3 separate regions of the Homo sapiens genome follow, and all the other regions are linked to region 2. The links come from fine-mapping of genetic effects on gene expression. A gene starts in region 2. Each other region holds a variant in brackets. All regions are shown on one strand. Distances are between the middles of the regions.

Region 1 (8,185 bases), 530 kb before region 2:
TCTGATTCACCTGGGAGATGTGGGAAGCCTTCCTCTGGGAACTCATGATTGAGCTTGGATCTGATGGATGGAGAGATGATGCAAAATGGGCTCTAAACATCACACCACCATTTCTCTCTTAGGCTCATCCACCAACGCAGATGGTCCTTCCTTCCATCATGGTTCAAGGAAAGATCTGTCCAAGTCTCCCCAACAGCCAAAGGAAAGGTTTATTGCTCTGGGGACAAAAGGTGAACCCAGCTTAAAGAAATATCCTGACCTTGGGAGTCATAAATAAAAGCCCTGAGCCAGGGCTCAAAAGTATCTGAGGGAGGGTTTCAGCCAATGAGGACTTCATCCTTAAGTGCACACCTGAACTAAAGAATAGTTTGGGGCTCTGAGCTGACCTGGCCCTGGGGCCCCTCCTTTCCCAGTGCTGCAGCAAATGGATGAAAAATTGTATCATTAAACTCTTTGATGTTCTCCTGTCTAATTGAACCTGTGAAATTTCCTAAGGTTATCCAGCCTCCAAAAATTCAATTTTCCATGTAACGCATGGTGACGTGTCAATAAATCATGCTGTAAAATAAATGCGCAGATTCTTTTGTGCAGGAGCGAGTGAGGAATAAACCTTTCGTAATTGATAAATAATGTCATTGGAATCAATAGCTGGCAGAGGAGTTGGAGGAGTAAGCCTGAATCCTGTATGAGTGCTCCGGGGTGATCAATGCCTTTGAAACAGCCAGGAGCTCGGGAGCCAAGTGTATAAATTACTGCCTTAATATTACAGCAGGGCCCAAAAATTAAAAGATGGGTACATTGCTAAGTACTGTTGAGATGGGAAGATGAGTCTGGGATGTGGGTAGTGTGAGTTCTTTCATGGGCACCTTTTGGAGGGCTTGTGGGGTCCCTGCAGAATGGAGATGAGAGCAGATTGTGCAATCTGGGACTTCGGATGGAGACAGCATGAATCCAGCTCTGGTCATTCCTGCCAACATCCTATGTTGGCAGCAAAGGAAGTGAGCTGCCACAGACACTACTTAGGAAAATGGCCCAGCTGCCCTCAGAGGCCTCAATACCAGGAGCCAGTGCTGACATACAAAGTGAAGGACAAGCCTGGGAATCATTGGATCAGGTTCCAAGTGGCAGCCACAGACCCTGCTAGACCAAGAGGAAGGGTCACTATGCAGTGGTCAGGAGCACTAGCTTGAGTCAGACTGCTCAGCTCTGCCACCAGCTGTGTGACTCTAAGCAAGTTACTTAACCGCCTTGTGCCCCATTCTTCTCCTCTGTAAAACAGAAGGCAATAATGCCAACTTCACTGACTTTTTTAAAATTATTATTTCTTCTTAAAAAAAAAGGGATACATGTGGAGAACGTGCAGGTTTGTTACATAGGTATATGGATACCATAGTAGTTTGCTGTGCCTATTGACCCATCCTCTAAGTTCCCTCCCCTCACCCTCCACCCCACAACAGGCCCTGGTGTGTATTGTTCCCTTCTCTGTGTCCATGTGTTGTCAATGTTCAACTCCCACTTTTGAGTGAGAACATGCAGTGTTTGGTTTTCTGTTCCTGTGTTAGTTTGCTGACAATGATGGCTTCCAGCTTCATCCATGTTGCTGCAAAGAACATTATCTCATTCCTTTTTATGGCTGCATAGTATTCCATGGTATATATGTACCACATTTTCTTTATCCAATCTATCATTGATGGGCATTCGGGTTGGTTCCATATCTTTGCTATTGTAAATAGTGCTGCAATAAATATACGTGTACATGTGTCTTTAAAATAGAATGATTTATATTCCTTTGGGTATATACCCAGTAATGGGATCCCTGGGTCAAATGGTATTTCTGGTTCTAGATCCTTGAGGAATCACCATACTGTCTTCCACAATGGTTGAACTAATTTACATTCCCACCAACAGTGTAAAAGTGTTCCTAGTTCTCTACAGCCTCGCCATCATCTATTGTTTCCTGACTTTTTAATAATCACCATTCTGACTGGCATGAGATAGTATCTCACTGTGGTTTTGATTTGCATTTCTCTAATGATCAGTGATGTTTAGCTTTTTCTTCATGTTTGTTGGCTGTGTAAATGTCTTATTATGAGAAGTGTCTGTTTATATCCTTTGCTCACTTTTTAATGGGGTTGTTTTTTTCTTGTAAATATGTTTAAGTTCCTTGTAAATTCCAGATATTAGACAGACAGGTAGATTGCAAAAAATTTTATCCCATTCTGTAGGTTGCCCGTTCATTCTGATGATAGTTTCTTTTGCTGTGCAGGAGCTCTTTAGTTTAATTAGATCCCATGTGTCAATTTTGGTTTTGTTGCAATTGCTTTTGGCATTTTTGTCATGAAGTCTTTGCCCATGCCCATGTCATGAATGGTATCACTTAGGTTTTCTTCTAGGGTTTTATGGTTTGGGGTTTTACCTTTAATCTTCAATCCATCTTGAGTTAATTTTTGTATAAGGTGTAAGGAAGGGATCCAGTTTCAGTTTTCTGCATATGGCTAGCCAGTTTTCCCAGCACCATTTACTGAATAGGAGATTCTTTCCCCATTGCTTGTTTTTGTCAGGTTTGTCGATGATCAGATGGTTGTAGATGTGTGGTGTTATTTCTGAGGTCTCTGTTCTGCTCCTTTGGTCTATATGTCTGTTTTGGTACCAGTACTAAATATGGAAAGGAAAAACTGGTACCAGCCACTGCAAAAACACACCAAAATATAAAGACCAATGACACAGTGAAGAAACTGCACCAACTAGTATGCAGAATAACCAAGTAGCATCATGATGACAGGATCAAATTGATACACAACAATACTAACCTTAAATGTAAATGGGCTAAATGCCCCAATTAAAAGACACAGACTGGCAAATTGAATACCCATTGGTGTGCTGTATTCAGGAGACACATCTTACGTGCAAAGACACACACAGGCTCAAAATAAAGGGATGGAAGAAAATTTACTGAGCAAATGGAAAGAAGGAAAAAAAAATCAGGGGTTGCAATCCTAGTCTCTGACAAACAGACTTTAAACCAACAAAGACCCAATAAGACAAAGAAGGGCATTACATAATGGTAAAGGGAACAATTCAACAAGAAGAGCTAACTATTCTAAATATATGTGCACCCAATACAGGAGCACCCAGATTAATAAAACAAGTTTCTAAAGGCCTACAAAGAGACTTAGACTCCCACACAATAATAGTGGGAGACTTTAATACCCCACTGTCAGTATTAGACAGATTAACAAGACAGAAAATTAAAAAGAATATTCAGGACTTGAACTCAGCTCTGGATCAAGTGGACCTAGTAGACATCTACAGAACTCTGTTCCCCAAATCAACTGAATATACATTCTTTTCAGTGCCACATGGCACTTATTCTAAAATCGACCACATAATTTGAAGCAAAACACTCCTCAGCAAAAGAACTGAAATCATAACAAACAGTCTCTCAGACCACAGAGCAATCAAATTAGAACTCAGGATTAAGAAACTCACTCAAAACCACACAATGTCATGGAAATTGAACATCTTGCTCCTGAATGACTCCTGGGTAAATAATGAAATTAAGGCAGAAATCAAGAAGTTCTTTGAAACCAATGAGAACAAAGAGACAATGTACCAGAATCTCTGGGACATAGCTAAAGCAGTGTTAAGAGGGAAATTTATAACAATAAATGTCCACAGCACAAAGCTAGAAAGATCTCAAAGCGACATCCTGACATCACAATTAAAAGAGCTAGAGAGGCAAGAGCAAACTAATCCAAAAGTTAGCAGAAGACAACAAATAACTAAGATCAGATAAGAACTGAAGGAGATACAGACACGAAAAACCCTCCGAAAAATCAACAAATCTAAGAGCTGGTTTTTTGAAAAATTAACAAAATAGATAGACCGCTAGCTAGACTAATAAAGAAGAAGAGAGAGAAGAATCAAATAGACACAATAAATAATGATAAAGTGATATCATCACTGACCCCACAGAAATACAAACTACCATTAGAGAGTACTGTAAATACCTCTACATAAATAAACTAGAAAATCTAGAAGAAATGGATAAATTCTTGGATGCATACACTCTACTAAGACTAAACCAGGAAGAAGTC[G/A]AATCCCTGAATAGACCAATAACAAGCTCCGAAATGAGGTAGTAATTAATAGCCTACCAACAAAAAAAAGCCCAGGACCAGATGGATTCACAGCTGAATTCTACCAGTATTACAAAGAGGAGCTGGTACCATTCCTTCTGAAACTATTCCAAACAATTGAAGAGGAAGGACTCCTCCCTAACTCATTTTATGAAGCCAGAATCATCTTGATACCTAAACTGGGAAGAGACACAACAAAAAAAGAAAACTTCAGGCCAATATCCCTGATGAACATTGATGCAAAAATCCTCAATAAAATACTGACAAACTGAATCCAGCAGCACATCAAAAAACTTATCCACCACAATCAAGTCAGCTTCATCCCTGGGATGCAAGGCTGGTTCAACATACACAAATCAATAAATGTAATCCATCACATAAACAGAACCAAAGACACAAACCCCATGATTATCTCGATAGATACAGATTTGTTAAAATTCAACATCCCTTAATGTTATAAAACTCTCAATAAACTAGGTATTGATGGAACATATCTCAAAATAATAAGAGCTATTTATGACAAGCCCACAGCCAATATCATATTGAATGGGCAAAAGCTGGAAGCATTCTCTTTGGAAACTGGTACAAGACAAGATGCCCTCTCTCACCACTCCTATTCAACATAGTATTGGAAGTTCTGGCCAAGGCAATCAGGCAAGAGAAAGGAATAAAGGGTATTCAGGTAGGAAGAGAGGAAGACAAGTTGTCTCTGTTTGCAGATGACATGATTTTATATTTAGAAAACTCCATCATCTCAGCCCAAAAACTCCTTGAACTGATAAGCAGCCTCAGCAAAGTCACAGGATACAAAATCAATGTGCAAAAATCACAAGCATTCCTTTACACAAACAATAGACAAGCAGAGAGCCAAATCATGAATGAACTCTCATTCACAATCACTACAAAGAGAATAAAATACCTAGGAATACAGCTGACAAGGGATGTGAAGGACCTCTTCAAGGAGAACTACAAACCACAGCTCAAGGAAATAAGAGAGGACAGAAAACAAATGGAAAATCATTCCATCCTCATGGATAGGAAGAATTAATATCACAAAAATAGCCATACTGCCCAAAGTAATTTATAGATTCAATGCTATCCCCATCAAGCTACCATTGACACTCTTCACAGACTTAGAAGAAACTATTTTAAATTTCATATGGAATCAAAGAAGACCCCCCTATAGCCTAGACAATCCTAAGCAAAAAGAACAAAGCTGGAGGCATCACACTACCTGACTTCAAACTATGCTACAAGGCTACAGTAACCAAAATTTACTGACTCTTAAGGACAAAATGGAATCATGTTTCTAAGTATCTCAACTCAGTGTCCATTCCTACCAAACATTAAACAAGTTGAATCTGTAGTGCTTTATGGATTGTATATTGTTTTGTCACTATCTGGAGCACTTTCCTTCTATTTAATTCTCACAGCAACCCCATGAGGTAGTTACTACGATTATCCCCATCTTATGGATGAGAAAATTGAGGCTCAGAGAAGGTAAATGCCTTGCCCAAATCACATCACTCTAATTTATGGAACCAAGATTTGCATACAGGTAGTACAAGTCCAGAGCTGTTTCTTAAACATGACACTATATTGTAGCACCATCCTTTCCCTGGAGCTTCCCCAGCCCTGTGGAAGGCTGTGCTTGGTGGGCACTCCCCATGATGGTCTCCAGGGGCATCCCACCTGGCTCACAGGCAGCCTGAGAGGGAGGAGAGAGTGGAGAACCAGAGTCAGGCTGTGGTGGTTTCTGATTCCAGCTCCAACACAATGTGCCTCTGAGGCCATCACTCCTGCTGGCTGAGCCACGGTAGTTGTCTCATCAGTAACATCAGAGTGATAATTTTTACCCCTCAAGGTCATCTCCAAAGCATGATGTGTGCTCTTGGGCAAGAAGGACCTATGTGAGTCTGTTTCCTCATCTCTAAAATGTGAATCATGACTCCAGCCTCCCAGGACTGACCTGAGAATTAGATGAGATGGCCAATAAAAATCACCTTCCTGGCTGGTGTCTGCAGCTGCTTCTCATGAATCCCCCTTTCCTTCCAAAGGAATTCAGAAGGAATCCTAACACAGTGTGCTATACAACACCAGGGGTAGGAGGTTATTCAGACCTATTGTTTCATAACAAGGTATGGTAGATAGAAGATATTTGTATCAGTTTGTTCTCACACTGTTCTCACACTTTCTCTTAATGAAGAAATACCTGAGATTGGGTGCTTTATAAAGAAAAGAGGTTTAATTGTCTCACAGTTCCACATAGCTGTGGAGACCTCAGGAAACTTACAATCATGGCGGAAGGCACCACTCCACAGGGTGGCAGGAGAGAGAATGAGCGTCCGGTGAAGGGGAAAAAGCCCTTTATAAAACCAACAGGTCTCGTGAGAACTCACTCACTATTGTGAGAACAGCATGGGAGTAACCTCCCCCATGATTCCATTACCTCCCACTGGTTCCCTCCCATAACACATGGGGACTAGTAGAACCACAGTTCAAGATGAGATTTGGGTGGGAACACAACCAAACCATATCAATATCCAAAGCAAAAAATTGAGAAAATTTACGCATTCAGCTTCAAGTCGCTTGCTGCAAAAGACCTTCCTTGGGCCCATACTGTGAGCTCCTCTGGCTCCTGTATCTTCCATATTATAGCATCTACTCCCATGTCATATAACTAAGCATCAAACTTTCTTGATAGAGGATCAGCTTTGTAGGGACAGATATCTAGTGTCTTATGTTGGTTGGGCTCCCCTCAGAAGAAAACCTTAAGACTAGAATTTCAGTGCATGTAGTTGATGTAGGAGGCAATCCCAGGAAGTACCCATGGGAGGATGGGGAAATAATACAGAGACAGAAAGACAGGAAGGGTGCACTGATGGGCAGGTTTCCACTGTGGGCCACCAGAGCTCAAAGCCCTGGGGACTTCGGGAGGTAGAGTCGGGCATGCACCAGAGTGGCCCCACATGATGCATGAGGCGGCTGAAATATATATTCACCATCTCCCACCTGCCACTGGTTGATTCCCAGCATTGCCAGCCCATGACACATAATAGCCAGAGAAAGCCCTCAGGTAGAACTTCACAGGTGCTGGCAGTAGAAAGCAGTTGCGGATGGGAGTAGTGACAGCCACAGTGGGTAGAGTATCTGCTACACCTTACTGATCTCTAAAGCCCTGATGCCCACCCAGTTCCTGGCCCCGTGCTTGCTTTATGAAATGGAATGAACAAATGAATGAATGAGGAGTAGTCATCTGGGTCAGAGCTCTTGCACATTGGTGAAGGGCAGATTCTGAAACTCCTACTTCAAAAGCTTAGAAGCAGCAGGCTGTCCCAGCAACTCGAGAGTGTGCTTTCCTCTGCCTGGACTGGACCTCCCCTGGTGTAGCAACCTGTATGTGAGGAGCCAGGCAGGTTCAGGGACTCACACACAGAGCCAGTGGGAAGCCGCTGAATAAGAACTCTTCTTTCTTCCCTGGTGGGCTATTATGATAGAGTCTGGTAAGCTCCAGAGGGTGGAGGAGGGGGGCTTCTTTGTCTTTATAGCCCACCTTCTGCAATTTAACACAAAGCCTTGAATATCACAGGCTTCCTTGCTCTTTGTAACAAAATGGACTTATGTGTTGTTCACTCATTTGGCAAACATCTGCTTAGGACTCCATGTGCCAAGCTGCATTAGGTGGTATGGGCATAAGAATGAATAAAAATAAAGTCCTTGACCTTGAAGTCAAGTGGAGTGTCAGATACATCAAATAGTAATTAGAACACAGCATCATATGTACTATAATAGAATTATGTAAAGGAAGATTATAGGACCCCAAGGGAACAACGGATCATCAAATTGCTTTGGGGTTGGTAGAGAAATTTTCACACATTCATTTATTTATTTCTCTTTTTCACCAGTCTCTGAACAAAAGGAGTATCCTCCCTGTTTCATGACCCTCTTTGTCCTATGGGGGTTTGTCACAAAAGCACCTATTTTTTAGTCTTCAGACTTATGCAAAACACCATCTGTGCCCTGGCTCTGGGTCAGTGACTAGAACCGCA
Region 2 (8,185 bases):
AAATTAGCCAGGCATGGTGGTGCGCACCTGTAATCCCAGCTACTTGGGAAGCTGAGGCAAGAGAATCGCTTGAACCCGGAGGTGGAGGTTGCAGTGAGCCAATCTAGCCTGGGCAAAAAGAGCGAAACTCCGTCTCAAAAAAAAAAAAAAAAAAAATCAAACATTTGTCATTACCTTAGTGTCTTACTGATTATTATTACCTCTGGTATCACAGCATCTCTCTTCACCCTGCTTAAAATGTCCTACCCAGGGCCAGGCACGGTGGCTTACACCTGTAATTACAGTACTTTGGGAGGCCAAGGTGGACAGATCACCTGAGGTCGGGAATCCGAGACCAGCCTGACCAACATGGAGAAACACTGTCTTTACTAAAAACACAAAATTAGCTGGGCATGGTGGCACATGCCTGTAATCCCAGCTACTTGGAAGACTGAGGAGAATCGCTTGAACCCGGGAGGTGGAGGTTGTGGTGAGCCGAGATAGCACCATTGCACTCCAGCCTGGGCAACAAGAGCGAAACTCCGTCTTAAAAAAAAAAAAAAAAAAAAAAGTCCTACCCAGCCAACCAATCAGTGAATGTTTTGCTGGGTTTGTGGGAGAAAAAGTGCCTGCTTGCTGGGCAATTAGTTTCAGTTTGCAGATCAGTGTCCTTGTAAACAAAAAAGGGCCCTAACTGAGGGGCAGGCAAGAGCTCTCAGCTAGATCTCCATGAAAGAAATTATTATTAATTCAAAAAGCATCTATAAGACCTATTCAATCAAATAATATATTATCAGTGGCATTAGTTCTTACAGGAACGTTGAAATTAAAAAATACTGTACAACCATCTTCTCAAATGCCAGGGAATCCAACTTTGCAAGCCAAACCAGTTGTCTCAAATTCAATTATAAGTTTTCCTTCTGCCAAAGAGATATGTTTTCTGTTTAAAGTAGACTGGAGCCCATGCTCCATACTTGATCAGATCACTGTAAAGTCAATTTAGCTGCTGAGAACTAGATATTGGCAATCTAGAGTGAATTCACAGAGAAGTACAAACTACCTAATATTTAAAACACAGGAAAGTTATCGAAATTGGACATCCTTCCAAGATTTTTTCACCCAAAGACCATCACAGACGTAAGTATAATGTTAGTTCATGAAAATTATTAAAAGCCTTGAACAACAGTTCAGATGACAAATATTACTCAATCCAGCTTTACTGCAGTGTATACTGAATTGGATTCTAAGCAACTCCAGTGAAAGTATTAGAGAATATAGTAAATAGATGATGGATTTAACAAAAATACTCTGTGCTGCTTCCTCTCTGCTTTTTAAAGTGAAGCCTAGAAGCAATCTAAGTGTCCATAAATAAGGGCTTGGTTAAATAAATTATGATACATTCTTACCCTGGAAAATGCAACTATTAAAAAGAATAAAGTAGACCCTAGATACCGATATTTTTTTTAAAAGTCCATGATACATAGTTAAGTGAATACCACAAGTTGCAAAACATGTATAGAATTATTCCATTTTGATTTTTTAAAATCTATTTTTAAATACCCTGTGTGTATGTTCATATATGCCCAGCAAAAACAGCTGAAAAAAGATCTGACAAATTGCTAACAGTAGTAACCTCTAGGGACTGACTGAAACTAGGAGGCAGTGAAGGAGTGACTTTCCCTTTTTCCTTTGTGGACTTCTGGTTGTTTATATTTTTTTGCCAGTAGGGGTTACCTTTGGGGTTGAAAAATAACAACACAAAAATAGTAAAAGTAAAATAACATGAATTACACAGATTTATTTATCAGATACTAACCAAAGTAAGTGATCTTTCTACTTAAATGCTACTGTATGCTTAAAACTCCAGAGAATCTAATTCATTCTTTTTCTATTATATTTTACTAAAACAAATAAAAATCACCCCAAGTCCCTACTAGTTTTCTCAAATGCTTTCTATACATACATACATACACACACACACACACACACACACACACCCACAGGCCTGGTCATAAGCATAGCTAACACACACGGTGCTTATTCTACACTAGGAACTGTTGTAAGCACAGTAAGTGTTAACTTATTTAATCTTCCCAGCAGGCCTGGTGAAGTGAATCATGCCTGAAATCCTAGAACTTTGGGAGGCCGAGGCAGGAGGACTGCTTGAGTTCAGGAACTCAAGACTAGCCTGGGCAATATAGTGAGCCCTCATCTCTACAAAAAATACAAAAAATTAGCTGGGTGTGGTGACCCACGCCTGTAGTCTCAGCTGCTCAGGAAGCTGAGGTGGGAGGATCGCTTGAGCCTGGGAGGCAGAGGTTGCAGTGAGCCAAGATTGTGCCACTGCACTTCAGCCTGGGCAACAGAGCCAGACCCTGTCTCAAAAAACAAAAACAAAAACAAAAAAAGTCTTCACAGCAACCTTATGAGTTAAGTACTACTATAATATTATCTTCATTTCACAATCAAAGAAACTGAGTCCAAAGAGCTTCAGTGAGCCGCCTAAGCTTACACAGCTAACAAGGGGAAGAGCTAGGATTCAAACCTAAGAATAAACTCCAGAGTCCATACTCTCAACCACTATGCTTCCTGTCTCTCAGTAATATGTCAATCTCTCTATATGAAAGCCAAAAGGGGTTACAGGTAAAACCCAGCTAGCTAATGCATTCCTTGAAGCTGGAAGAGATGCACACTTGGCTTTTTATGGGTGAATAATCCTACTTATGTCATTGCCAAGCTCCAACCCAAGGATCAAGACTGTATTAAGGTTCATAACCATGTGGGAAAATTCTCTACACACTCAATTATAGTCCAAAGTCCATACCTGACTCCACAGTAAATCACTAAGCCTAAGATTTAGGTCAGAGACCCAGCTAGACAAAGGATTTGGACAAACCTCCACCCCAACTCAAAGCAAGACAATTCAGAAACTTTTGTCCAAACGTTCTGACAAAGTAGGCTTTTGTTTTGTTTTGTTTTAGTCCTAGGCCCACTTAAGATTTAAACGGGGAAAGAATACGAGTTGTCTTTAACTTTGCTTGAAGACTTCAGCAAGAAAAGCCTTTTCTACGTGGGCTCAAACAGAAATTGGCATATATCAGCATCAGCAAAGTTGAACATCCTGGCTTAAGGAGACAAAAATAGGCATCCTTGCTTAAATGGTGTATTTGGCCAAACATGTTGACCTTATAATTGTGGAAGAAAAAAATGGTGCGAGGAAGAGATTTAACCTAATTTGTAAATGTGCTCAGCCTAGATACACACCTGTCCCAAATGACCTACTGAATCCACTTATTTGCAGGGACAACATGGATTACAATGCCTTTTTTGTTTTTATTTTTTGCCCTCAAGTGGTCCATACTACTGTTTGTAAACAAAATCCTCTCACTACCTCTCTTCCACCTGTCATACACACACATCTGATATTTACATAAACAAGAAGAAATGAACAGGGAAACTGGAGCTTTGGGAGGAATTCCTTACCCTCAGCTTTTGACCCAGTGGTTGAAGGAGGTACTATGCGGGCTTTCAAACTTCCCCAAATAACCCAGGCAGAGAGGCTGGGTGCGCGAACCCAACCCAAAAGTTTGCGCCCATTCTGGTCTCTGAAAAAGGCCAGAAAGCCCTGTTGGGAAGAAGATGAGATGCCTTCCACCCAGCAGCCACCCCCTCCCGAGGGAGCACAGCCCACGGGGGACAAAAGACTTTCCAGATTGATCGGGGGCGGGAGGGAGACTAGCTGGACCTGGGATCCCCCCTCGGGAGCCGGAACCTGGGGTGTCTTTGGGGTAACAAACGATAAATTATAGGCAAGAGCCCAACCCTAGATTGCCGGGGCTGAGGTGAGGACGGGTCCTGCCCGAGAGGGAGCGCCGGACTCACCTGGAGGAGGCGAAGAGGGGGCCTCGGTGGCAGGTGGGGTGGGGAGGACGCTGCTGTTGCTGCTGCTGGGGAGATCGGGGGTCGGGGTCCGGGGAGTCGTGGGCGCCGGTACGGTGGTCGCTACAGGGGTGGTCGGCGCCGGGCCAGTGGTCGTCGAAAGGGTGGTCGGCGCGGGTCTGGTCGGCGCCTGAGAGGTGGTCGAAGTGCGTTCCGCCGCCGGAGGGGTGGTCGGCGAGGGGCCGAGCGGCGCCTGAAAGGTGGTGGAAGAGGGTCCAGCAGTCGCCCAAAGAGGGGTGGTCTCCGGGGACTGGGCTGGAGAAGTCGCAGCCAGGGGTCGGTGGACGGTGGCGCGCGGGGGCCCGGTCCTCGGGGCCTGGGCCGTGGGAGCCGTCGCCCTAGGGAAGGGGTGGCTGGGCTCGCCCCGCAACCCGGGGCCCGGCGACGCGTCCACCTGCCCCGCGGCCCCGCCGCCACCGGTGACATTCCCCGCCGAGGCGGCTGAGGCGACGGCGGCGGCGGCGGCGGCGGCGGCGCAGCACAACAGGGCGAGGCCGCCCAGGCTCGGCAGGCTCCTCATGGCGCGCTCGGCTCCGCCATTCATTCATTCAGCCAGTCGGTTGGTCAGTCATCTTCTCCTCGTTGCAATCCGACCAAGGAAGCCTCCGCAACCGCCGCCGCCACCGCCACCGGGCGCACCATCGCCACCTCCCTCTGACAGGCGGCCGGCCCCGCGGGCGGGCCCCAGCGCGGAGGGAGCGACCGGACCGAGCGCGGACCGCCCGCCCTCCTCGATTGGCAGCCGCGCCTAACCAATGGGAAGCCACAGTCGCCCACGTGATCCGCCCGCTTCCCGGCCTCTTTGTAGCCCCGTAGGCCAATCAGAGGACGTCCAGGAGAGGGGGCGGTCCGTGAGGCGGGAGAAGGGTGGTGCGAGCCCAGCTCTAGCCCGCCGGGCTCGCGGCGGCCCCGGCTTTGTCTGCCCAAAGAGTGGGGCGCGGGCCTCGGGCACCGGGCGCCGCGGAGCAGACAAAGGATGCGCCCCGCGCGGCAGACGCCGGGCCTAGTCATCTGCTCCACCGGGCTGCGAGCACGAGCGGGGGGTGGAATCAGCACTCGGGAGCATCCCCGCCCTCCTGAACAATGGGGCGCCAGCGCCGCACCCCAGCTCGGGCGGGGACCGCGCGGGAACCCCGCGATGGGAGAGGGCAGCGGCAGCGACGATGTAGAGCTTGGCATGCCCTCTGCTGCTCCAGAGAGCCTGGTCGCAGCCTTGCGAGGTCTCTGCCGCCATTCCCATTTCAGAGATGGGGAAGCTGAGGCCCTTGCTGAGGGCCTCCCTGAACCGAGACCCACGCCCTCACCAGAAACCTGCTGTGGGCCAGGTGTTGTGCCAGACTGGACAAGGGGGCGGGACCGGGCGGTGGAGACCCCTGAGGGCAGAAGGTGCAAGCTTCCTGCGTGGAGGAGACAGGCTCGCAAGCACACTTACCTAAACCCCGGGAAGAATAGGATCAGACAGGGTTGAACCTCAACTTGATGTCTTTTGCTGAATGGTTTTGTGGCCTGAGCGCGGTTTTTTCACCACTAAAATGGAGATGATAGGACACCCCTCACCCCCCACCCCCCTCACAGAGCTGTTGTGAGAATTAAGTCATGGACGTAAAGGGCTTAGCCCAGAGCCTGGCCCACTGTTGTAACCCTCATTAATGCTAACTATTCTCAGCATTTGCGCCAGGGCAAGCCCAGGATTAGAAAGCAGCCCCAGGCCACAGCCCTTCAGTGCCCCCAGAGCCTCCGGCTGGTTGCAGGGGTTGGGGTGGGGCTAATAGCCGAGCTTGACCCTGGATGACACTAAACCCTGAATCAAGCTGGAATTCGGGCACGCAGCCTCGCATCATCCGCCCAGGATCCAGAGCTAGGTCAGGCGCTGCTGCTTCGGCTCAGCAGCTTCCAGAGGAAGCCAGGCAGGGCGGGTTTGTCATCTGATGGGGCTTAATTCAAGCCCCACTGCTAACCCAATCCCGGCCTCCCCTACGTGATGTTTGGCTTTGTGCATGGTTTCCCATTAGTCATTGGTCTTCAACCAGACCAGCAGGATGAGATTTATGTGTGAACCCGTGTATGTTAATTAAAGCATGCATTTATTTTCCTGCATGAGTAGTGGGTGGGGGAGGCTGTGTATGAATGCATAAACATGTTTGTGAGTCTGTGTGTATGAGTGTTGTATGTATCTGTGTGAGTTTATGAGTATGGGAGCTAGTATCTATTTTCATATATTGTGTCTTAATAATCTGTGCATGTGTACTGGTGTGTGTTTTTGTGTATTTTCTGTGTTTTTGCATTTGTGGTTATCTATGGGTGTGTCTTGATAGGTCTATGTATATAAGACAGCGGGAATGAGGGAGAATGTGAGTGTTCTGTCTTCAGGACCAATATTTAGCAAGCACTAACCAAGGTTCTATTTTTACTTTGCTTTGGGAGGGTGGACAGGTCATGCCAGTCCCCCATATTCCCTTGCTGACCCTCCCTGGCCCTTCAAACCCCAACCAAAATGTCACATTCTCTAAAAGACATTCCTGGATTTGAGTGGGAATTAATCTCTCCCTTCTCATTTCCCCACCACCCCTTGTTTATGCATTGATTACAGCCCTGATCTACCAATCTACCTCTCCGTTGCCTCTTCCTAAAAGGATTAAGGATGGCTTTCAGAAATATATACAACAGGATAAATTGTATTGCCCACATGGCTTTATTACTTCTCATAGGCATGCATCAGCCTTAATACTAGAACTTGTTATTTATGTGTCTGTCTCTTACGTCAGATGTTCTCCCTGTTCTGAGAACCTAGCAGGGGCAACACATGTAAGTGCCAACCCATGCTGGTTAAATTGAATTAATTGAGGTCTTGTCGTGCTTGTGGGAGGAGCTTGTGTCTTTAGAGTCAGACAGACTTGGGTCATGACTGCCAACTCTGTGACCTTGGAGGAAACCTTTCACCTCTCTGAGCCTCAGTTTTCCCCCCCACTTTTTTTTTTTTGAGACAGTGTTTCACCCTTGTCGCCCAGGCTGGAGTGCAGTGGGGTGATCTTGGCTCACTGCAACCTCCGCCTCCCAGGTTCAATCGATTCTCCTGCCTCAGCCTCCCGAGTAGCCGGGATTACAGGCACTTGCCACCAGGCCCAGTTAATTCTTGTATTTTTAGTACAGACGGGGTTTCACCATGTTGGCCAGGCTGGTCTCGAACTCCTGAGCTCAAGTTATCCTCCGGCCTAGACCTCCCAAAGTGCTGGGATTACAGACATGAGCCGCCGCGCCAGGCCACTTTTCTCATCTATTAAATGGGGCCAATAAATAGTCTCTCATTTGTTGACTAGGATTGAGGAGAATGTTTTTACAGAGCCTAGCACACAGACGGTGCTCAAGCTGTGTAGGTTCATATTTTTGTTATACCATTGCTAACTTTGAGACTTGTTGGCTGAAGGACCAGAGCAGAAACCCCTGCCCCATAAGTTCCCCATCAGGTGACATGGCCTGACACTTGCCCTACCTGATATTTCCAAATGATATCTGAAAAATGCTGGGTTGGCCCTGAGCTTTGCTGTATCAGAGGTTCTCTGGCAAGGGGAAAAAAGCTGATGCAGCTTCTTGGCCAGGAGAGCCACAGAGCAAATGACTAGGAGACCTTGTCGAGTGATTCAGGTCAGCTCTCTGCCTTAGGCAAGGATCATCCATGCCGGGGCTTTTAAGATGGGATATTAGCCTGTCATATGTATAGAAAATATTGAATTTTTTTGAAAGATACCAGTAATTTAAATGTGTTAATGTCCATTCAACATTTAATTTTTAAATTTCCTTAATCTTAAATCTTCCTTAATCTCTAAACTACAAGATGACTTTCTTAGGAATTATGTTTGTGTTTAAAAATTGGAAATACCTTACATATCTGTCATCAAAGAAAGGTATTATTATACCTGTTAAATTTAATCCTAGAAAGTCATTGTAAGTGTAGCTATGAAGACAGTATAGCAAATATTAATAGTAAATAATTGAGCTCATAGTCTATGCTAGACACTATACCAAGAGCTACATATGAATTGTTTTGTTTAATCCTAAAAACCCCAGGAAATAGGTACTATTATGTCTTAGTCCATTTGGGCTGCTGCAACAAAGTACTGTAGATTGTGGCTTGTAGACAACAAAAAATATATCTCTCCCAGCTCTGGTGCCTGGGAAGTCCAAGATCAAGGCACCAGCAGATTCAGTGAGCTCCCTGGGTGTCCTTTAAAAGGACACTAATTCCATTCATGATGGCGCTGCCCTTATA
Region 3 (8,185 bases), 23 kb after region 2:
AAAAAAAGGAATCAAATTCCTAAGCCAAATAAATGCATCTATAGTTGTGTAAATTAAGAAATCTGCCATCCAGGTGGGGAGGGGGTACCTGTTGCATCAGCAGGTTGATGGCGGGGCCCTGCCTGGTCGGTGTGGTTCTCCCTCTCCCAGGCCATGTCACCTTGTTCAAGTAGAACATTTATTCCTGCCCACCACAGGCATTTGACTCTCTGGAATTCATGGGAGGTTCTAGAGTGCGTCCGGCTCTGTGTCAACTACCACTGTGCAATTCCTGCAAAGGCAGTTGAGGCGGGGGTGGAGTAGCCCTGAATAAACTGACAGCCAGAGGACTGGGATATCAGCTGAGAACGTTCCCATGGAAAAGAAAAGTCCAGCCCCTTCCAGCAAATGCTGCCTGGCTCTGCAAAGAGTGCCTTGTCATCTCATTGGCATTGCTTCTGTATTTCTTTCCTATTTCAGACCAGAAGTGAGTGCATGGAGGATCTCTGTGAGCTGGTTTTCTCTATCTTCAGGATAATCCAACCTTTAGTAACAAAAGCAGAAAAATCTATTCCTATCCTTTGGCTCCCAAGTCCACATCTAAGTGATTCGTCCTAAGGATGTATTTCCAAAATTGTTTTTAAATCTTGTTTCAGGCCAGGAGCGGTAGCTCACGCCTGTAATCCCTGCACTTTGGGAGGCTGAGGTGGGTAGATCACCTGAGGTCAGGAGTTTGAGACCAGCCTGGCCAACATGGCAAAACCCTGTCTCTGCTAAAAATACAAAATTTAGCCACGTGTGGTGGCGGACACCTGTAATCCCACCTACTCGGAAGGCTGAGGCAGGAAAATTGCTTGAACCCAGGAGGCAGAGGTTGTAGTGAGCCAAGATGATGCCATTGCACTCCAGCCTGGGCAACAGAGTGAGACTGTCTCAAAAAATAAGTAAATAAATAAATCTTTTTTTAAATAAAGGTTGCTAGTATTATGCATGATTACATAAAGTGGGGCCTACCCAGGTCCCAAATGACAGGTGGATGAGCAAACTTTGGCCCCCATTTGAAAGAATACTATGATAAGCTTAAAAATGACAAAATGAAATTCGTCAAAATATAGAAAAGTATATATGAAAGAATGTCCAGGGAAAATATTGGAAACCCAAACTGCACAAATCAATCAGTTTCTCCCTGCAGCCCTGTTGATGAAAACTGGAAGAGTTCAAGAAATAGTTATGTAAAATTTAAATAAAGTCCATGTTCTTTTTTGTGGGTATTTGTGTGCTTAAGTAATGTAAGTATCATAATCCCTAAGAAAATACTTTCTAACTTTTAAACATTGTTCACTATAAAATTATCATTCACTTTCTTCAAAAAATAATAAATTATTTTAATAATTGCTAATTGCTCTGTCTAGAGTTAGGTGGTTGGGATACAGAAGTAATTGCTTCCTGGCATTCAGGAAAGTACGGGTCTTGTTTTGACCAGGCCTCTGCCTTCCCAGGGTTACTCCAGGAATTGGGATCTAGAACAGCATATGTTTACACCCAAAGGTGGGAGATCACTTTCTCAGGCAGGACTGGTCCTGGACTAGGGAAAACTACTCATCTAGCCCAAATGACTTGTCCTTCCAAAGAAACTATTCTGCTCCCCCAACTAATAATATTAGCCATATCAAGATTCTTAGCTGCAAACAAGAAAAAATTTGCCATGGATAGTTGCATAACAATGATCATTATTATCATCACTTTTGGTGCAGTTGTTGTATGCAGGCACTGTGCTGGGCTCAATGGGAAGGGTTTTATGTGCATTATCTCTTTTTATCAACAACCTAGAAAAGAAGGCAATTACTTCCTGTTATGGATGAAGGAACTGAGGCTAAGAAAGGCTGAGAAACTTGCCCAGAGACCACAGATTTAGTAAGTGGTAGAGGAGATTTTCAAAGCTAGAGCTGACTGCCAAGCTTGAGGTCTTAACAAGCTTAGTTTCTGCAATGAAAATCCTGCTGGGCTTCAGTGAGAATCCAGCAAGCTGGTGATGCAGCCTCCATCCTTGGTGGGCCCCTACTAGCCTTAATATTTCAGGGCAGTTTCCAGGAGAGCTGGCTGGAGTCAGTGGTTGGCATCCACACGCAGCAGAGCCATGAAGCTGGCTTTCCCAGCAGCTCACATTAACTGGCAGTGGCAGCCAAGGCAGGTCAGAAGCAGAAATGCTCTCAGGGCCTCAGGAAACATCTGCAAGTCCTCAAGGAGACAAGACCTGCCCCCTTATCACCTCTTCGGGGGAGAGAGTGGGCCTATCCCATCTGCAGGGAAAGAATGAACACATTGCTTTTATTTTCCAAGGTGTGTTCCTGTAAATGAAACAATTCACTGCTATGCAACTTTTAGGATTGGCCACTTGAGAGCAGGCCTTGTACTGGACAATGGGGTGGCAGTCCTGAAATCAGAGCCACCACCTGCCTGCCAGGGCTTGTGGGGCAAGGGTGAAGATGGTGACAAGTGACAAGCAGTATTTGCAATTCAAAGTGAATGGTGCAAGGAAAAGGGGATGTGGTGTAAGGGGGAGAGTATGAACTTTGGAGTCAGAAAGTTCTGTTTCTTCATGTCCTGGTTGTGAGACTTTGGGCAAATTTCCTAACATCTCGAGGTTGTTTCCTCATCTGGAAGAAATGTAAATAGTTATACTTGTATTGCATAATTACCATGAACATTAAAAGGTACAAGTATATCAATACTTAAAATTGCCTAGCAGATAATGGGAGCTCAATAAATGATAACATTACTAGTGTTATTAAAAAGGCTCAGTTGGAGGATCTATAAATGGTGTTGTTGAAAAGAAAACAGAAGGGACATATTAGCTGGGTTTTGATGGGGAAGTAGGAGTTTGTTGACTAGCTGGTAGGCAGGAAGGGTTTTCTAGTTAGCAACTTAGCAAGGACAGCTTTGTGAAGGAGCATGGAACATCCAGGCAACATGAGTGGACCAGTTAGGAGCTACTGAAATATTCCCATCAAAATACAGGGGCGTACCCCTGGGGCAAGATGACTCTCTGACGTCCACTTACTACTATTCTCAAATAAAGGACCATGAACAACCTCTCCGTGTAAATTCATAAACCAGCATTCTTGTTAGCTACGCTTCCTGAAATGGAGCAGCCTCCAGGCCCATGGCCTGACAATCCACAGGGAACAAACAAAGCTGAGAATCAGATTCCAAGAGCCCACGCTCTTCCTTCTCTGGAGTTAGACAGGCTTGAGTTTTCATTCCTGTCCTTGCTGTGTAAACTTGGCAAGTCACTCATCTCTCTTATCTTTCAGTTTTGCCATCTGAAAAATGGGAATAATTATACATTACACAGAAATTGTTATACATTATCACAGTACCTGGTGCATGGCAGGTGCTATCTATTCTTTAGAGAAAGGAGCTGCTTTCTTGCCTGAACTTATGGCAGAGTGAAGGCAAGACTGACATATTCTGGAAGAAGCCCCACAATCTCGACCATGAAATATCAAAAAAAGACTTTCACAAAAATGGCATAGGATAGATGTTATTCTGTACTTTGCTTTTTTCAATGAATAATACAACATGTGAATACATTTAGATCTTTCTCTCTTTTTTTTTTTTTGGAGACGGAGTTTTGCTCT[T/C]GTCACCCAGGCTGGAGCCCAATGGCACAATCTCAGCTCACTGCAACTTTCGCCTCCCAGGTTCAAGCGGTTCTTCAGCCTCAGCCTCCGGAGTAGCTGGGATTACCGGCACCTGCCACCATGCCCAGCTAATTTTTGTATTTTTAGTAGAGACGGGGTTTCCCCATGTTGGCCGGGCTGGTCTCGAACTACTGACCTCAGGTGATCTGCCTGCCTTGGCCTCCCAAAGTGCTGGGATTACAGGCGTGAGCTACTGTGCCCAACCCTTCTCTTTTTTAAAAATTGAGAATTTTACAGTATTATTACAGTATTAAAGCTCACCCTTTTAAAGTGTACAAGTCAGTGGTTTTTAGCATATTCATGAGGTCTTTCTTGCAATCATCACTATTACCTAATTCAGGACAATTTCATCATCCCAAAAAGAAACCCTGTATCTGTTAGTAATCATGCCCCATTGCCCCCTTCCCCTGCCCCCAAGGACTGCTTATCTTATTTTCCATCTCTATGGATTTGCCTATTCTACACATTTCATACAAATGGAATCATATTATATGTGGCCTTCTGTGTCTAATTTATTTTATGTAGCGTAATGTTTTCAAGATTCATCCATGTTGTAGTATGTACCTCATTCCTTTTTATGGCTGAGTAATATTCCACTGTATGGATATAATACCATATTTTATTTATCTATTAGCTGATGAGCATCTAAATTGCTTCCATTTTTGGCTATTATAAAGTAATCCTAATTTCTTTAAGTAGTTGCCTTGTATTCCATTAATTAGAGGTAGCATAGTTTAGTTAAGCACTTCTTACTGAAGGATAGTTCTGGTCTTCTTCATTGTTTGCTAAGCAAAGAAAGATATTGTTACCACAACATCCTTCTAGTCTAAGAGATAGTCAAAACTTACCCCATTTCCTGAGGGAATTATCCAACAGAAGCAAAAAGTTGTATTGCAAAATATACTAATTGCAGCAATTTTTGTAGTAACACAAAATTGGGAACTACTTAAAGAGTCCACAACAAGGAGCTCTTTAAGTAAATTCTATTGTTCAATTAAATAATGTACAATTACTAAAATGATAACTATGAAGGCAATATAGCAACAAGTGAATTGCAAATGGTGATCTTAAGTGGAGGAAAAACCATGACAAAATGCAAAATGGCATCCCTTGCCCACACTGGTTCTCGCGATAGTAAGAAGTAGGGCTGGGAAGCACATCCATGCCCTCTGGCCTTGAAATTCCTGTCTCTGCCATGTCACAAGGAGGAACAGAATCCAGGCTTCCTCACTAAGGAGCAGGCTGGGGATCACTGCCACCCTACAACTACTGTGGGTTCTAGGAGAGGGCCCGCTCAGGAGAAAGGAAGGCTCCCCTCCCACGTGACGAGGGGAAGCTGAAGTCACTGTTGCCTTCCCTAGATTTTGAAGGTCCTGACTCCCTAGGTCCCCAGGGAGTGGGTCATAGCTAGGCTGTATAATGGTGACGAGAATTGTGGACCCAAGTCATCCTGGTGGCTGTGGAACCAGTTGTTCATGAAGATAGTGGGTGAACTGTTGTGATGAGTACCTTCCAAACTTCCTGTGTGTGGTGCTGGGGTCTCTTGCCAACGTCCAATACCTAGGACAAATGCTGACTTCTCAGAGTGCCACCTGGCACTGTACTTTCCAGAGTAGTCATTGCAACTACATTCAACAGCAGTAACTGTGAATCCATTCAATTGAACCAATAATGTGAAACTGTTATTTATTTATTTATTTATAAGATGGAGTCTCACTCTATTGCCCAGGCTGCAGTGCAGCGGTGCCATATTGGCTCATCGAAACCCGGGTTTTGAGCAATTCTCCTGCCTCAGCCTCCCAAGTAATTGGGATTACAGGTGTCTGCCACAACGCTCAACTAATTTTTGTATCTTTAGTAGAGACGGGGTTTCACATGTTGGCCAGGCTGGTCTCCAACTCCTGACCTCAAGTGATCCACCTGCCTCGGCCTCCCAAAGTGCTAGGATAAAGATGAAACCCACCACGCCCAGCCTGAAACTGTTTTTTAAAAGTATCCTTCCTGCCTGTAATCCCAGTACTTTGAGAGGCCAAGGGGGTGGATCACATGAGGCCAGGAGTTCGAGACCAGCTTGGCCAACATGGTGAAACCCTGTCTCCACTAATACAAAATTAGCTGGGCGTAGTGGCGTGCACCTGTAGTCCCAGCTACTCAGGAGGCTGAGGCAGGAGAATCACTTGGACCTGGGAGGCGGAGGTTGCAGTGAGCCATGATCACGCTACTGCACTCCAGCCTAGGCAACAGAGTGAGACCCTGTCTTAAAAAATAGAATAAAAATGGCCAGGCGCGGTGGCTCATGCCTGTAATCCCAGCACTTTGGGAGGCCGAGGCGGGCGGATCACGAGGTCAGGAGATCGAGACCATCCTGGCTAACATGGTGAAACCCCATCTCTACTCAAAATACGAAAAAAGAAAAAAAAAATTAGCCGGCCGTGGTGGCGGGCGCCTGTTGTCCCAGCTGCTCGGCAGGCTGAGGCAGGAGAACGGCGTGAACACAGGAGGCGGAGGTTGCAGTGAGCTGAGATCGCACCACTGCACTCCAGCCTGGGCGACAGAGTGAGACTCCGTCTCAAAAAAAAAAAGAATAAAAATAAAAAAATAAAAGTATGCTTCTTATTGTCATGATCATGTAAACCACAATCATTGCCATTAAAAGTACACAATGTAGCAAAACCAGTGATAACCTGTAGCCTTCAAAGTATTATTAATAAGAGAAATTTATCCTCAATGGAGCATGTTGGTTGGCAGCTTATTTTTTTGGATACTTATAGTTGTGATGTTTACGTTGTGATTTTGTATTTTGTATCGACCATAAATTATATTTTTTTATTTCTAAACCTTGTAAACAAAAAATATACTAACACAGAATTTTGTTAAAGTTTATATGAAGGAATATAAAAAAAAAACATTTTCTAGTATTCAGGAAAGTATATAGTAGCTTCCCAGTCCTCTGCTACCAGCTTCCAATCAGCTCCACAAACTGTGAAACTGTCCCTAAAATGTCCCCAGTCTTAGGGAGAAGTTTGAGATTATTAGGGTCACAGCTACACTGCTGTAACAAAGAGGCCCCAAAATATCGTGGGTGCAAAAACATCAAAATTAATTTTTCTCTTACAAAACAAAACAACCAGGCTGGATTGGTCAAGTGATGCCGCCATAAACAGATACAGTTTCAGCCAGGAGCGGTGGCACATGCCTGTAATCCCAGCACTTTGGGAGGCCGAGGCAGGTGGATCACCTGAGGTCAGGAGTTCAAGGCCAGCCTGGCCAATATGGCGAAACCCCGTCTCTACTAAAAATACAAAAATTAGCAGGGCGTGGTGGCGGACACCTGTAATCCCAGCTACTCGGGAGGCTGAGGCAGGGAGAATTGCTTGAACCCAGGAGGCGGAGGTTGCAGTGAGTCAAGATGATGCCACTGGGCTACAGAGCAAGACTCTGTCAAAAAAACAAAAAACAAAAAACAGGTAGTTTCCCTGTTGGTCTCCATCCCCTAAGGTGTCATTATTTGCTTAATCAAGGCTGGGTTGCTAACTCTGGGAAAGGAGGAAGAACCAACATTCCAGATAAGGAGCTTAAATCTGGAGATGACCCAGAAAATGTTCACATCACTTCCTTTCAATATTTGGTTAGTCCACACTTAACCACATGGTCACATCCAGCTGCACAGGAGTCTAGGAAATGTAGCCTGTAGCTGGGCAACTGTGCCCAGGAAGAGGGGAAGAATTTGGAGGAATAAGTAGCCATCTGCTACAGAGATTCTTTTTAATTTAAAAAATTTACAACATAAAAGAATTATATTACAATCCCATCATACAACTACTGACATTTTTCTATTGTTCTTTCCACATTTGAAACATGTGTGTTCCATGTATTTTTATAAAGTTGTAAAAATAGTATGTATGCAATTTTACATTCTACCAGAAATAAAACAGTATAATGAAAATAACATTAGATTCAAACAATGATATGCTATTTTTTTACCTATGACATTGGCAAGGTCTTTTAAAAAACCACAATAACCAGTGTTGGAGAGATCATGGGGAAATAGCCACTCAAACGTTACTCATGAGAGTGTACACATGTGTAACTTCACTTGGAGGGCAATTTGGTGATACATTTAAAAGTTTTGGCCAGGTTTGGTGGTGTACACCTGTATCCCCAGCTACACGGGGAGGCTAAAGCGGGAGGATGGTTTGAGCCCAGGAGTTTGAGGCTGCAGTGAGCTACGATCGCACGACTGCACTCCAGCCTGGGTAATGGAGGGAGACACTGTCTCAAAAAAAAAAAAAAAAAATTTACAATTTAACCTAAGGGGAAAAATGTAGAGATGTGGGTACAGATTTGTATAAAGGCTGGTTGTCGAAGCCTTACTTATGCTAAAAAATAGAACTAACCTAAATATCCAATGGGGATTGTTTAAATGAATTATGATTCAACCTTCCACAGAGATTAGAATCATGCTCTTGAAGAACACTGATGATGTAAAAAGTCTGCTAACATAT

What was found.
Region 1: its variant is fine-mapped to the expression of MEGF9 in hippocampus (GTEx, PIP above 0.99).
Region 3: its variant is fine-mapped to the expression of MEGF9 in whole blood (TOPMed, PIP above 0.99).

What each region holds. Positions count from the first base shown.
Region 1 is chr9:120,176,316-120,184,500 of GRCh38, forward strand. No RefSeq gene overlaps it. Among named protein-coding and RNA genes, the nearest start is that of MIR147A, 65 kb to the right of the region's middle. The variant G/A (reference allele first, on the strand shown) is at 4,098.
Region 2 is chr9:120,709,897-120,718,081 of GRCh38, forward strand. It overlaps MEGF9 (multiple EGF like domains 9), which reads right to left and starts at 4,574. Exons shown (of 6, transcript NM_001080497.3): 1 at 3,862-4,574. The coding sequence starts at 4,462. RefSeq lists a silencer at 4,262-5,111.
Region 3 is chr9:120,733,063-120,741,247 of GRCh38, forward strand. No RefSeq gene overlaps it. Among named protein-coding and RNA genes, the nearest start is that of MEGF9, 23 kb to the left of the region's middle. The variant T/C (reference allele first, on the strand shown) is at 3,621.